2 linked regions of the Homo sapiens genome follow. The protein of the gene in region 1 interacts with the protein of each later gene in a biochemical or structural test. Each region holds a gene or a part of one and is shown on either strand. Other genes may lie near its edges.

What was found. Proteins that work in one complex are often made in the same cells at the same time.
Region 2: the proteins of PTPN3 (region 1) and SCN5A form a complex in vitro, tested with the Homo sapiens proteins (2 studies listed by IntAct, with this or other methods).

What each region holds. Positions count from the first base shown.
Region 1 is NC_000009.12:109,376,308-109,383,415, reverse strand, and holds part of PTPN3 (tyrosine-protein phosphatase non-receptor type 3), read left to right. Parts: intron 1-968; coding exon 969-1,114; intron 1,115-1,628; coding exon 1,629-1,764; intron 1,765-3,782; coding exon 3,783-3,860; 3' UTR 3,861-7,108.
Region 2 is NC_000003.12:38,597,688-38,604,687, reverse strand, and holds part of SCN5A (sodium channel protein type 5 subunit alpha), read left to right. Parts: intron 1-604; coding exon 605-976; intron 977-5,637; coding exon 5,638-5,770; intron 5,771-6,720; coding exon 6,721-6,959; coding exon of another isoform or gene 6,960-7,000. UniProt on the Homo sapiens protein: Pore-forming subunit of Nav1.5, a voltage-gated sodium (Nav) channel that directly mediates the depolarizing phase of action potentials in excitable membranes.

The DNA of each region.
Region 1 (7,108 bases):
GCAGCCTGAGGGGCACGGTGGAGGGGCAGGTGCTGAATCAGCGGCCACTGTCATCCCAGGTGGTCACGCTTCTAGGTGTGCACTCTGTTTGCACCTGGCAAGCGTGTCAGTAAGTGCGCAAGACTGCCCATCAAAGAGCCAGGGCCCAGAGTTCACAGTGGCCCTAGTCACAACAGGCACGAGGTGCAAACAGCCCAGTGTCCATCGATGGAGGAATGGATAAACAGCACGTGGTCTGTCCATACAATGGAATATGATTCAGCCTTTAAAAGGAAGGAGATTCTGACCCCTGCTACAACACTGGGGAACCTTGAGCATATTATCCTAAGTGAAATAAGCCAGACATAGAAAGACACATACTGTAGGATTCAACTTCTGTGAAGTGCCTAGAGTCGTCCAATTCATAGAGACAGAAAGTAGAACGGTGGTTGCCAAGGGCTTGGGGAAGGAGGAGAAAGGACATCTATGGACATTTTGCCATATGGCATAATGGGTGCAGGGTTTATGTTTGCGGGATATTTTAAAGTTCTGGAAATAGGTAGTGCTGATGGCTCTACAACATTGCGAGTATTCTCAATGCCGCTGAACTGTACATTTAAATGTGGTTACAGTGGTAAGCCTCATGTTAGTATATTTTGCCACAGTTGAAAAAAAAAAAAAAAAACAGTCAGCATGTGTGGCCTCTAATGGCAAGTACCATAGCAGCAAATGGAGGAGATCACTGGGCAGAGGAGATCACTGGGCAGAAGTGATCAAGGAAGGCAGCCCTGCAGGACAGGCCCACAGCTGAGCCTGAGAGGGGATGGGGATCTTTGGGGAAGGAGGGGAGGAATTGCTAGGGGCCACAGCAGGGCTGTGCGCAGAGGGAGAAAGCATCAGGAGACAGGGCCACCCTGTGTCTGGGTTGGGGCTGGGTCCTCATGCTCACCACCTGGATGGGCTCACCAAGGCCACTGCATCTCCCACAGACCGGGGAAGAACACACAGTGACACATCTCCAGTACGTCGCATGGCCTGACCACGGTGTGCCCGATGACTCCTCCGACTTTCTGGAATTTGTAAACTATGTGAGGTCTCTGAGAGTGGACAGCGAGCCCGTCCTAGTTCACTGCAGGTATGGCGCTTGCTGTTTTGTTAGGTTTGGAATCCTTTCCCTGTCGGAAAAGGCCTGGAGACAATTGGCAGGCGCCAGACCCACCCTACATCCCACAAAGTCGTGTGCCCTTACAAACCTCTGTTGACTGTGGTTCTTCACCATTTCAAAAGTTTTTTGGAATTTTATGAAATCCTAACTTTGTGAATGTAGCACAGAACTGAAGAAGAAAATCCCCTCACACACCCTTTCTCCTGTCCTTCTGTCAGCTGACCTTCGTCATAGGTGTGAGTGAGAAAGGGAATAGGTTTGGCACTTCACAGTGGCCCTCTTTCCACTGCCTGCTAGCCCCCAGTCTCAGATGTGTGAGGACAGGCTGTCTCAGCCTGTTTGAGAGCACGCCGTGAGTGTGCGTTTTGTCTTCTCGAAGGCCAAGGGAGGAAAGCCCCTTTGGAGTCAGCGGGGAACTGCTCGCTGGGCCATGCAGAAAGGCTACTCAGACAAATCCCAAGTCTGTCTTCTCTCCCCTCTCCAGTGCTGGAATAGGTCGAACCGGTGTGTTGGTCACTATGGAAACAGCCATGTGCCTAACTGAGAGGAACCTGCCCATTTACCCACTGGATATTGTCCGAAAAATGCGAGACCAGCGCGCCATGATGGTGCAGACATCAGTGAGTAGAAATCCAGTAATTACGGTGGCTGGCACTTTCTGAGCACTTACACCAGGCAGGCCTGAGAGAAGGGCTTTGTGAGTCAACAGACTGCAGCTCAGGGGGACTGAATCACTTGCCCAAGGTCACAGAGCTTGTCAGTGGCTACAGCCCACACCCATCTCACCTCTGAGCTCTGCTGCCTCTGTGGTTTATTTCCTGCCAGCCCGTCTGTCAGGGAGCAGCCCTGGTTGCATTCTGTATCGTTGAACAATCATTTGTCCATTATCCTCCCCCGCACCGACCCACCTAGACCTGGGTACTCCTTTTGGCTCAGTGGATGTTGCATATGACCCTACTTTGAGCTCTGTTCCACCCGTGTGGTGCCTGAGTACCTGCTGTGTCCTCCACGGGCAGGCCAGAGCTCAAAGTAGGGTCATGTGCAACATCCTCTTGTCCTCAAGAGGAACTCTAGGGGATAACTCTTGGGGATTTCCCCTGGAACTGCAAGCGGGGCAGTGAAGCGGTGTGGAAAGAGCATGATTAAGGTCCCACCACAAATGGAACAACCTTTGCATAAGTCCTGAACCTCTCTCCAAGCTTCAGCTTCCCTGTGCAAAATGGGGACCATCCCACATTCATTCATTCATTCATTTGACAAAGAAGGGTGCAGAGACAGGCTTGTATCTAGTAGGAGAACTGGATTAGTCTATGCTAAGTGTCAGCAGCGGTGAGGGAAGTTCAGGGCTGTCTGAGAACATGGTGGAAGAGTATCTAAAGCAGGATTTGGAAAGTCTAGGAAGGCTTCCTGGAGAAGTGTCTTCTCTGGTAAAAACCCCCAGGGTACATGAGGAGTTAGCAAAGAAAGGAGCAGGAACTATATGTTCCAACCAGCTCTGTCTCTTCACAGGCTGTGGACAAAGTTTATAAGATTTCCCTAATAAATTTTTAAGCTTTGGTAGTTTTATATTAGTTTGTACCCAGAAAATCTTGTTAAGAGAAAAAAAATCAGCTTATGTTATTAGGGCCATTCTCTGCCCTGTTTTTTGGTATGGAAGACCTCGTGGCTGGTTAAAAAGAAAAAAGTCCATCATCCTGGTAGATTTTCCCAGCTGGAAGCTGGGCACGGTGGCTCACGCCTATAATCCCAGCACTTCAGCAGGCTAAGGAAGGTGGATCACTTGAGATCAGTAGTTCAAGACCAGCCTGGCTAACATAGTGAAACCCCGTCTCTAATGAAAATACAAAAATTAGCCAGGCATGGTGGCATGTGCCTATAGTCCCAGCTACTTGGGAGGCTGAGGCAGGAGAATCGCTTGAACCCAGGAGGTGGAGGTTGCAGTGAGCCAAGATTACGCCACTGCACTCCAGCCTGAGTGACAGAACAGGACTCTGTCTTGAAAACTAGATAGATAGATAGATAGATAGATAGATAGATAGATAGATAGATAGATAGATTTTCCTAGCTGGAGAAGCTCAGTCTAAATGCTTTTATCCCCCCTGTATACTTTGCTACAATATGTTTCTTAGGTATTTGCTAAGATAAATAACTGTATCCTGCAGAGCATCTTTCAGTGGCTCTGCTTTGTAAAACACAATCCAGACTCCTTACCCCAACACAAGGTGCCCACAACCAGGTCCCAGCCCACCTGTGCAGCCCCTCCTCCTCCACATGCCTAGGTGTTGAGTCCAGGAGCAGGCTCCCTGACCCCGTTTCTCAAAATGGGCTCTTACTGAGGCTTCCACACTTCCACTTACAAGAAGGGCTGTCCCGCAGGGACTTTTGCTCCTTCCCACCTCCCCCAGACCGCCAGTTTCTCCCTCTGTCATGTCTCCATGACACTTTGCCCACCCCTCTCTGGGAGTGCCCCCTCCCCGCATCATATAGGAACTAGGGCTTCACAGGTGTACCTGGCCTGTGGCCCAGAGTTGGCGCTCAGGGAATATTTACAAATGCTGCAAAAGACCCACCGGTACAGGGTGTGGTAGGCAGCATTTCCTGGAGCTACAGGACTTGACAGCATTTTTTTCTTTTCCAGAGCCAGTACAAGTTTGTGTGTGAAGCGATTCTTCGTGTGTATGAAGAAGGTTTAGTCCAAATGCTGGATCCTAGTTAAGACAACTGTGAAAAAGTTCATTCCTCTTTCCCAAGGGCATCCTCCTTGAAAGAGGAGGACAGACCTCTCTGGAAGCAGCAAGAGGAACCAGTAGCTGTGGGAAAGGAATGGGCACCTCTGAACCCAGGCACTTTAAACTTCTATAGAAAAGATATCGTGTACATAGGAACTGGTGTAGATAAGCATGCAATTATGGCATCATTTAGGCCTGTATTTCTATGGAAAGATACAAAAAGGATCTCAGTTTGGGGCCTGTCCTAATGCCTTCTTCCCTAACATCACCACACACACCCCTGTCGGCATCCTGGAGCAATTGAGACCGGACACCCACAGAGCTGTTGTCCTCCCAGCAACAAGATGGTGTGGTTATCTTGGGTCATTTGGATGTTTTGTTTGTTTCTGTGTGTCAGACTGTAAGGGCTGAGCTTTCTGTGCTTCTAGGTGGAGCTGGAACAATTCAGATTCACCCGCCCTGATGCTAAGGAAACCCTGACGTATGTACTAGATGGCAGGGCACTGGGGGTCAGGCTGAAGGCTGAGCAACACCTCTCTGCCCTCCCTCCCTTTGTCCCATCTCCCAGCGACTTCCAATATTCATGTTTCTGAGAATTGTGTCCCTCTTCAGGTTCCCTCTTGGTGCCTAACCTGGATTAGTAATGTGCATTCAGGTGAATTTTCAGCTGAGGCTCTGAGAACTGGTACTCTCAGTGTGTTCTGGTCATCTTGTGGCTTAGTTGTAGAAGCAGGTGTGTCTCTTGCCTCTGCTTGCCTCCTACTGCACACTCAGCACCCAGGACTGGAATCACCGACTACTGAATCTCCTACATGTATTGCTGCTACTTCAAGCTCCTCCACTTGAAACCTTATGATTTTCCCAAGGGGAGATGGGACAGTGTCATCTAAATATTCCGAATGTTTGGCCTTCTGAGAAAAGAGCTTCTAGTAATTGAACCATGGGAAACCCAGCTTCTGGAGGGTTGGCCGTGGGGCTGTGTACATGTGTGTGCCCAGGGGTGAGTGTTTCTCAGGATTCCTAACGATTCAAATTACCGTTGAGTATATATAAAGAATGAGTCTCTGTATGGAAGAACAAATGTGTGCATTCACCCCCAGTCACAATGGTCTCCATTGCATTTCAAAGGAGAGGATCAGACTATCTGAATATAAACACAATCTGATGTTAATTTATTCTAAGAACACCATCATTTTGATTGTCCTAAAGAATTCTGCCTTTGTGAATACCGTGTTAAATTTTTTTAAATTTGTGACAGGATTGTAGCAAATTATTATTTAAGGAAAATAAATTGTGTAAACATTTAATGTGGTATTTTTGAACAGCGGTTTTTATGTACTCAGAAGAGGAAGTAAAGCCAGGTTCTTAATGGTATTTATAGAAAAGATGTTTTCATATTATAATGCACATAAATGAAGCCATTTTGATATTCAGCAAATTCGGTGCCAATTGAATAGTTTGCTGGTAGCAAGACGGATGAAGACCTATATGGGAGATTCTTTATCTCTAGAGCTAGCATATTTACTTGCATACTTTGTTTCTTTTCCACATGGATATTTTACTGCTAAATGGCAGAGGTGGGAGGGAGATGTCACACAGTACCATAACCCCATATTGAAAACAAGAAACCACCAGAAAGTTTGCAGCTAAGGGGCAGGGGATTCAGTTCCTACGCCCACTCAGCACTAACTACTTGCGGGCCTGGTTGCTTAGAAGCTCTACCTCTCTTTCATTATCTGTAAAATAGAAACAATACTTAGGACTTTAGTTGGAACATGAGGATTGAATAAGATCACGCTATTCATGTGACTTTTTATCGGCTAGAACAGCAACAGACACTGCTGTGGGTGAGTTACTTAGAAAAGTTTAGTTATCAGTGATTAGCCCAAAAACACATCAGTCAAAAATAGAATCCACTGGATTTTTGTCTCTCTTTTTAGAGACAGGGTCTCACTGTCGCCCAGGCTGGAGTACAGTGGCATGATCATTGTTCACTGCAGCCTCAAATTCCTGGGCTCAAGCAATCCTCGCACCTCAGCCTCCTGAGTAGCCGGGACTATAGGCACATGCCACCTCACCTGGCTTGTGTGTGTGTGTGTGTGTGTGTGTGTGTGTGTGTGTGTGTGTGTGTGTGTGTGTGTGTGTGTAGAGACAGGATCTTGATGTGTTGCCTAGGCTGGTCTCAAACTCCTGGCCTCAAGTGATCTTCCCACCTCAGCCTCCAAAACTGTTGGGATTATAGGCGTGAGCCACTGTGCCCAGCCTAACTGGGTTTTTATGAGAGGAAAATAGAAAATGCTCTTCTAGAAGAGAGAGAACAAGAGCACAAAATAATCTGGACTCACAAAAATTCAGCAAGCTCCAAGAAAGGGGGATGGAGGGAACGCTGGCAAAAATTTAAATGCCATTAGGATATTTAGCAAGTTATTACTGTTTGGTAAAAATGCATCATCACCCTGTGTGCAAAATGCTTGCAAAGTAGTCTAAATGTCTTTGGAGATGGGTGTTTTACTGCTTTTTTCCAAAAACAAATTGTTTATTATGGTTGCAGAAATGCAGCCATTACGGTCACATAAATTTCTAAAAAGCCTACCAAAGGTTGCAAGCAGTCTTCTGCCACTGGGCAGGCCAGCAGTTCAGACCCAGCGAGGTTGCCAGGAACAAATCCAGGAAATACTGGGAAGAACAAGACAAGAGAATTACCTAAAAGAGCAAACAATTCAAGTAAATCCTGTAGCTATTACCACTTAAAATCCGTAGCTCAAGATTCCTGTTTCACCACCTTATACACTTAAGCAATTATACTTAAGCCTTTTTTTAGTCCTAAGTGAAGAACTACATCAGAATCAGGATAAGTATTTTGCCTGGGAAATTTGGCTGCATATGAATGGAGAAGACATTTACATCCTATGTTCTGGCACTTTCTGAAAGATCTAATTAAACATGTTGATGTGCCAATTTAATCAAGATGAGAGATCCCTGCTGGTGTCACCCTCTAGAACCTGCACTTGGTGTTTTGACTTTCCAGAAGAAAAAAATGCAACTTTGGTTAGGGGGCAGTGGTTGGATCACACAGTTGTCTTTCGTTTCCTACCACAGTAATTCATATTTAAATATGCTTTTAGATTAGTGTGGATACTATTGCTGCTGTGTTGCTACCTGACCTTTTTCTGGGGGGGGTACCTCAGAAATGAGCATTTGAGGGCAAGCGAAAAAGCCCTCTTCATCCTCCAGA
Region 2 (7,000 bases), on another chromosome or scaffold:
GCATGAAAATCCCATCATGCTAGGCCCCTGTACAGTCACAGCCCCCATGGTTGCTCATCTCTGCGCTTCCTGTTTCCCATGGCCTTCCTTAGAGTAGGGGAGCTCTGGGCAGAGGGACAGGGTAGTTTTGGGTGTTGTGATATCCCCAACCTGAGGCCAGTATCCCGGCACTGGAGCCGGGGCTGGGGGACGAGACCCCATGGTATGGGTTGGTAGGAGTTCAAGGACATGCCCATAAGAGTGAGGGTCCATTCCGAGTGCCCCAGGTCCTCCTCAGGCCGGGCCTGTCTGCAACACCAGGAGCCTTCCTGCCTCCTTCTCCCTTGCCCAGCCTGAGCTCTAACTCCAAGCCCAGTTAAGTTTCAGGCTCCCAGCTCCAGAGACATAGATTTGAGGGGAGTAGACATCCCAGAAGATACAGGATTATCTCTAACCCCACATCCCCTCTTCCAAATACCCCCGGCCCAACCCACCTGGTTCCTGTGTGGCCAAAAAAGCCCTCAATGCTCTGAGAAGTTTAGCTGAGGCCAGTGGCACAAAAGACAGGCTGGGAGCACATGAAGAGCACATGTCATGGTCGTGTCCCCTCTCCTCATGCCCTTAGAATCATCTCAGCCTCACCCGTGGCCTCAGCAGGACTTCTATGAAGCCACGTTCCAGCCGCGGGAGCATTTTCACCTTTCGCAGGCGAGACCTGGGTTCTGAAGCAGATTTTGCAGATGATGAAAACAGCACAGCGGGGGAGAGCGAGAGCCACCACACATCACTGCTGGTGCCCTGGCCCCTGCGCCGGACCAGTGCCCAGGGACAGCCCAGTCCCGGAACCTCGGCTCCTGGCCACGCCCTCCATGGCAAAAAGAACAGCACTGTGGACTGCAATGGGGTGGTCTCATTACTGGGGGCAGGCGACCCAGAGGCCACATCCCCAGGAAGCCACCTCCTCCGCCCTGTGATGCTAGAGCACCCGCCAGACACGGTGAGCCAGCCCCGAGATGCAGGCACCACAGCAGGTCTGGTCTCCCAAACTGATCACCAGTGCCAAGTCCAAAAATACACGTCAAATATTTGTTGAGCACCTACTGTGTGCTGGGCTCTAGGTGCATAAACTTACAAAAAAAAAACTGGGCCCTCATAGAGCATCCATGCTAATGGGGACAGACAGACAAAACTCAAAAGAAAGCCAGGTGCGATGGCTCACGCCTGTAATCCCAGCACTTTGGGAGGCCGAGGTGGGGAGATCACCTGAGGTCAGGAGTTCAAGTCCAGCCTGGCCAACATGGTGAAACCCCATCTCTACTAAAAATACAAAAATTAGCCGGGCATGGAGGCGCGTGCCTGTAATCCCAGCTACTTGGGAGGCTGAGACAGGAGAATCACTTGAACTCAGGAGGCAGAGGTTGCAGTGAGCTGAGATCATGCCATTGCATTTCAGCCTGGGCAACAGAGTGAGACTCCATCTCAAAAAAAAAAAAAAAAAATCAAAAAGAAAAAATGTCTATATTGTGTGTAATGGTGATAAAGAGGGATGATAGTTAACTATGTCACAACTAGTAAAGCCTTCATTACCATCATCTGGGGAAGCCTGTTCCAGACACAAGGAACAGCAAATGTGAAGGCCCTGAGGCAGAACTCTGCCTAGCCTGTTGGAGGAGATGCCACGAGGTCAGTGTGGCTGGAACAGAGGGAGCGACGGGGAGAGAAGTTGCAGTGACTGTTACAAAGGTGATAGGAAGGGACTGGCCAGATTGTGAAAGGCCAATCAGAGCTTTGGTCACTTAGTCAGTTCTATGACAGACTGATGGCTGCCCAATCAGCCATCAGGTGTCCTTGCTGACCCCAGGCCCCCAACACAGTGACCAGAGCAGCCCACCCAGGAAAAAGCTGAACATCTGGCTCAACCCCCAAGGCCTGCAGAGCGCACTTGGAGAGGAAGGTAGAACAGATGGGAGGCTTGACCAGGAAGGTGGAGGATGGCCTGAAGATGCAGGGCTCCCAGCCACGTGGCTTATTTTGTGCCACTCAGACTCTCGCTCAATCTGTGGGACTTGGTACAGGTTAATTAATCTCTTTGTGCCTCAATTTCCTCATCTGTAAAGTGAAAATTATACGCCAGCAAGTTGTGGTGAGGACTGAAAGAGTGCAACTAGGTCCAGTGTTGAGACCAATACTTGCCTGGTCTTAGAGCCATTAGTATTATCTGTTATTGGTATTAGTAAGCAGGAAGGAGTGAGGATCCTGGGGTACACTGCAGAATGCCCAGGGCCCCACACTCCTCTGGAGCACAGGGTGAAGGGAGGAAACTGGGCACCCCTGGGGGCAGACCACAGCTTTAGGTAGAGCTGGGGAGGCCCTGGCCCATCTGAAGGGTGGGGTGTCTAGTTTCCAGGAACACTGAACCAGGCAGGTTCAGCCCTGGAGCCTCAGCCTCATGGAATCGGGTCAGCAGCTGGGAGCGCTAATAGAATTTCCTAATCTCATTAAGGAGAAAATCATCTCATTGTACTGCACATGTCGGGAGGAATCCAAGTTCAAGCACTTCATTACCAGGAATTCTGACTTCACCCATTCTCACTTCTGTGGGGCCCATTTGTAACCTTAAAGGGATTAGCAGGCCAAGACAGGGTCATTTGCAAAGTTAAAGGAATTAGCAAACCAAGATGGAGACATTTGAAGAGTCAAAGAGATTAGCAGGCTGCAGGCCCCTGGGAATGCCTTCTGTGCTTCCACTGGGTCCCCAGTGAGACGTTTCTGCCCAGTTCTAGTCTGAAAACAAAGCACAGGGTTGGGCACACTGTGGGTGCCTAATCAACAAGGATGGGAAGGAAGGGCCAGCCCAGCAGACAGCTCACGTTCAGTTTATCCAGATTGGGAGGTAGGGGCTGAAGACTTACTTTGCCCCTTGCTTGTATGAGACTGCCTGGTTCCAAAAGTCCAGATGGAGGTGGGAGAAGCACACTGAATATCCATTCCTTTTCTCCCCCTACATGTTAAATCTTCATCCTCATTTCCTGTGGCCACCTAGCAAGTTAGGAACAGAGCTGGAACTCTAACCCAAGCCTTCCGATTGATTCCCAAGAATTTATCCATCCAACCAATATCTATCTAGTGCCAGCCTGCCATGTGGCGTGCCAGGCAGTGTTGAGACTCCAGGGTTATAGCAGTGAACAAAGAAGGCAAGATCACTGTCTCTTGGAGTTTATACCGTAGTTAGGAAGACAGTAAACTGATCAATATTTTCAGGTAGCAATAAGTCATGTGATAGAAAGCTGCTAAGGGGAGGGATGAGGATGAGGGCTATTAGAATACTCAGGAAAGGCCTTCCCAAGAAGGTAACATTAAAATTGACAGGCAAATGATTTTAGGGAGCCAGCCCTAAAGATGCAGAGGAACAGCGTTCAGGCAGAGGGAATAGCAAGTGCAAAGCCCCTGAGGAGGACACATCCAAGGGATGAGAGGGACTAACAGGGCCAGGTGTGGTGAAACATTAAAATGAATTTCATGAGTTAGGATTTGGACTGTGCAGGGCCTTCTAGACCATAGATAAGTTTGGATATACTGTGTGAGTAAGATGGGGAGGAGTAGGGTGGGAGGAGTTGTTGAACAGAGGAGTGACATTATCTGATTTACTTTTTAAAGGAATCCCTTTCTACTATGCAGAGAATACAGGGATGAGAAGAAGAAAAGAAGCCAGTTAGGAGGCTGTTGCAGTGGTTTTGGGAAAGAGAAGATGACTGCCTGGACTAGGATGGTGTATTAGTCAGCTATTATAATAATAATGCTGTGTAACAAACTACCCCAGAAGTCAATCTCTAGCAACAAGCCTTTATTCTCATGCTCACTTATCTGCAAGTTAACTACAACATGGCCCATGTAGGTTAGGCTTAGCTGGGAAGCCCTGCTCCAGACGGCATGCTGGCTGGGCTGGGCTCCATGCTGTGGGTTAGGCTCAGGGCTGCTCTGCATCTTTGTTCTGAGGCTTAGGCTGAAAAGGTGACAGCTATCTGGGGAAGCTCTTTTCATGGAGAATTCCTGGAGCACAAGAGCAAGATAAACAGCACTAGCCCAGTTGAGGTTTCTGTTCACAGCATGTCCACTAACATTCTGTTGTCCAAAGCAAGTCATTCATGCCCAGGGCAGGGAAGTTAATTCACCCTCGGTGGGAGGGGAAAGAGAGTGCATATGTGCCAAGTGATAACCAAACTATCATAGATGGCAAAGAAGGAGGGGAGAAGTTGGGAGAATTTAAAACTTGCTTGTGAGTTAAGCTGGCCAAATTCATGGTTGCGTTGGACCTAGGGTAGTACCATTGCACCAGCCACCTCAGCCCTCTCAGGTGCCTCCACTTGAATACTTCCATGACTGGGAGCTCACTACCTCCCTAGGCAACATTTCAGAGCAGTCCTACCAATGGCCGGGATGTCCTTAACTTGAGCCCAGATCTATTTGGTATCCACCCTATGCCCTGCTTCTTCTACCCTGGCTAATCTAGGCCCATCTTCCCTCTGCCCTATGAAGATTAGAGTCTTGCTATTGCATGCTGAACAGCTCAGCACCTGGGCCGTGGTCATGCAGGGCCCTGCTGAAGTGAAGGCTTTATTGGCCCTCCTTGGTTCTGTGGGAGGCTCCAGGTAAGCCTAGAGAATGCCTGCCTGCCACCTCCCTTCACCAGGGCTGTTTCCAGGCCTGGGTTTTTTACTGATAAAAATGGTGCATGCATGGTGAAAACAAACCCCACAGTGCAGAAGTACATGAAGTGAAAAGGGAACTTCTCCCTCTTTTTCCCCTCCCCCACAATCCCATTCCCCAGATATGTCCACTTTAATTATTTGGTATGCATTTTCCAGATCTTTTTCTTGTTTTTTCATCAAACTGTTTGTCTTGGAGATGTCCGCATGGGAGCATCCAAAGAACTGCCTCGTTCTCTTTGTTGTCTATCAGAGCCCAGAGTTGGACTGTGTCTATAATTGATTTGAATATGGTTGCTATTGATTGGTGTTTTGTTCTTATGGTATTAGGAACACTGCTGCAATGAACATCATTTATGTGTATTTTTGATGCACATGTGTAATTATTTATGAAGTTAGATTACTAGACGAGGACTTGAGGGCCAATTTAAAATTTTCTTGGTAAATCCAGCCTAACTGCCTCCACAAAAGACACAGCCCCCCACCAGCCATATGTAAGCATTGTACTTTATCCTGCTATTAGCATTATCTTAGAGCATGTTAGATTTTTTTTTCAGCTTCTTTATGCTCTTGACGCTAGGAAACTTGTGGTCAGTTAAGACTCCCAGATCATTTTTGCATGTACTAATGTGTATGGCAGCATCAGGCTCAGGGAGGACCTGTGATATGTGTAGCTTCCTGACCACACTCAGGAATCACTGCTGATGAGAGGCAGTGAAGAAGAAAGGAGAATGAAGGAGACAGTGATTGGGAGGAGGGGTGGAGGGAGTTCTTAACTGGGAGGGAGTTGGGAACAGAGAAGCCCAGCATCCAGTGTCCCATCAAGACCTTCATCCTATCCCTGTGGCATCCCCAGCCTGAGTCTGGACCGGCCTCCCCAGGTCCAGCAGGACAGGAGCTGGGGGCAGGACCCTTTTCCCCAGGCTGACGCAAATCTCCTGATTGCACTCAGACCACGCCATCGGAGGAGCCAGGCGGGCCCCAGATGCTGACCTCCCAGGCTCCGTGTGTAGATGGCTTCGAGGAGCCAGGAGCACGGCAGCGGGCCCTCAGCGCAGTCAGCGTCCTCACCAGCGCACTGGAAGGTCAGCAACCCCAGGTCATTTAAGCACCCCCCACTTCCGCTGCAGGTACCCTCATCTTTATCCCAGCCTGACCCAGGCATCCCCCATTTGTCTTGGCCTGCTTTAGACATCCCCACACTGTCCCAGCCTTCTCTGTTCTGTGTAGCCTTGCCTGTCCTTCCATGTCTTTTCATCTGTTTCAGCTTGTTCTCTCCTGGGTATCACCATGCCTGTGTTTCTCCCAAATACTCCCACATCTGGCCTGTCCCAGATGCTTGTCAGTCTCATTCCATCATCTCCCAACCATAACCATGTCTATCTAGGACCATCCTGTCCTGAGCATACCCATGCCTGTTCTAGCTATTCCCATATCTACTTCAGACTATTCCAGGCATCCTACATCTTTCCCAGCCATTCCTGCCCTAGGCAACTCCACATCCCTTCCAGTCTGAATGGGGCACCCCCCATCCTGATCTTGTTCCCTCCTATCTCGGATGTATTCTCATCTTTTCCAGCCTGTCCTTGGCATCCCCTCTCCCATTTGTCCTGACACATCCCAGATGTCCACATCTGTCCCTGCCCATTCTGTCCCAGGTGTCCTCGTGTCTGAACTTGCATGTCCCCATTACTGTCTCATCATTTTCAGCCTGTCCTCCCCTGAGTGTCCCCAGGTCTATGTGGGACTGTTGTCTTAAGCAGTTGTACGTTTGTCCTGATAATCTCTCCTGTCCCCATTTTCCCCACCTCCATCTTTGTTTCCTGTCCCTATGGACCTCTTCTCTCATATTTCCAGATTAAGGAGCCAGGACACAGGCCACCCACTCCCTTGGCCTTCCCTGCTCCCACTGTCCCGCTGTCACCTAGCAGCCCTGTCATCTCCCAGAGCAAGTCATAAATCTTTCCTGGAAGGTATTCCAGTTACATATGACTCAGTCAACAGAATCAAACTAACTCATTGGCTGTCCCCTCAGAGTTAGAGGAGTCTCGCCACAAGTGTCCACCATGCTGGAACCGTCTCGCCCAGCGCTACCTGATCTGGGAGTGCTGCCCGCTGTGGATGTCCATCAAGCAGGGAGTGAAGTTGGTGGTCATGGACCCGTTTACTGACCTCACCATCACTATGTGCATCGTACTCAACACACTCTTCATGGCGCTGGAGCACTACAACATGACAAGTGAATTCGAGGAGATGCTGCAGGTCGGAAACCTGGTAAGGGCTGCCTGCAGCTGGCTCTCAAATGGGCATCCTGG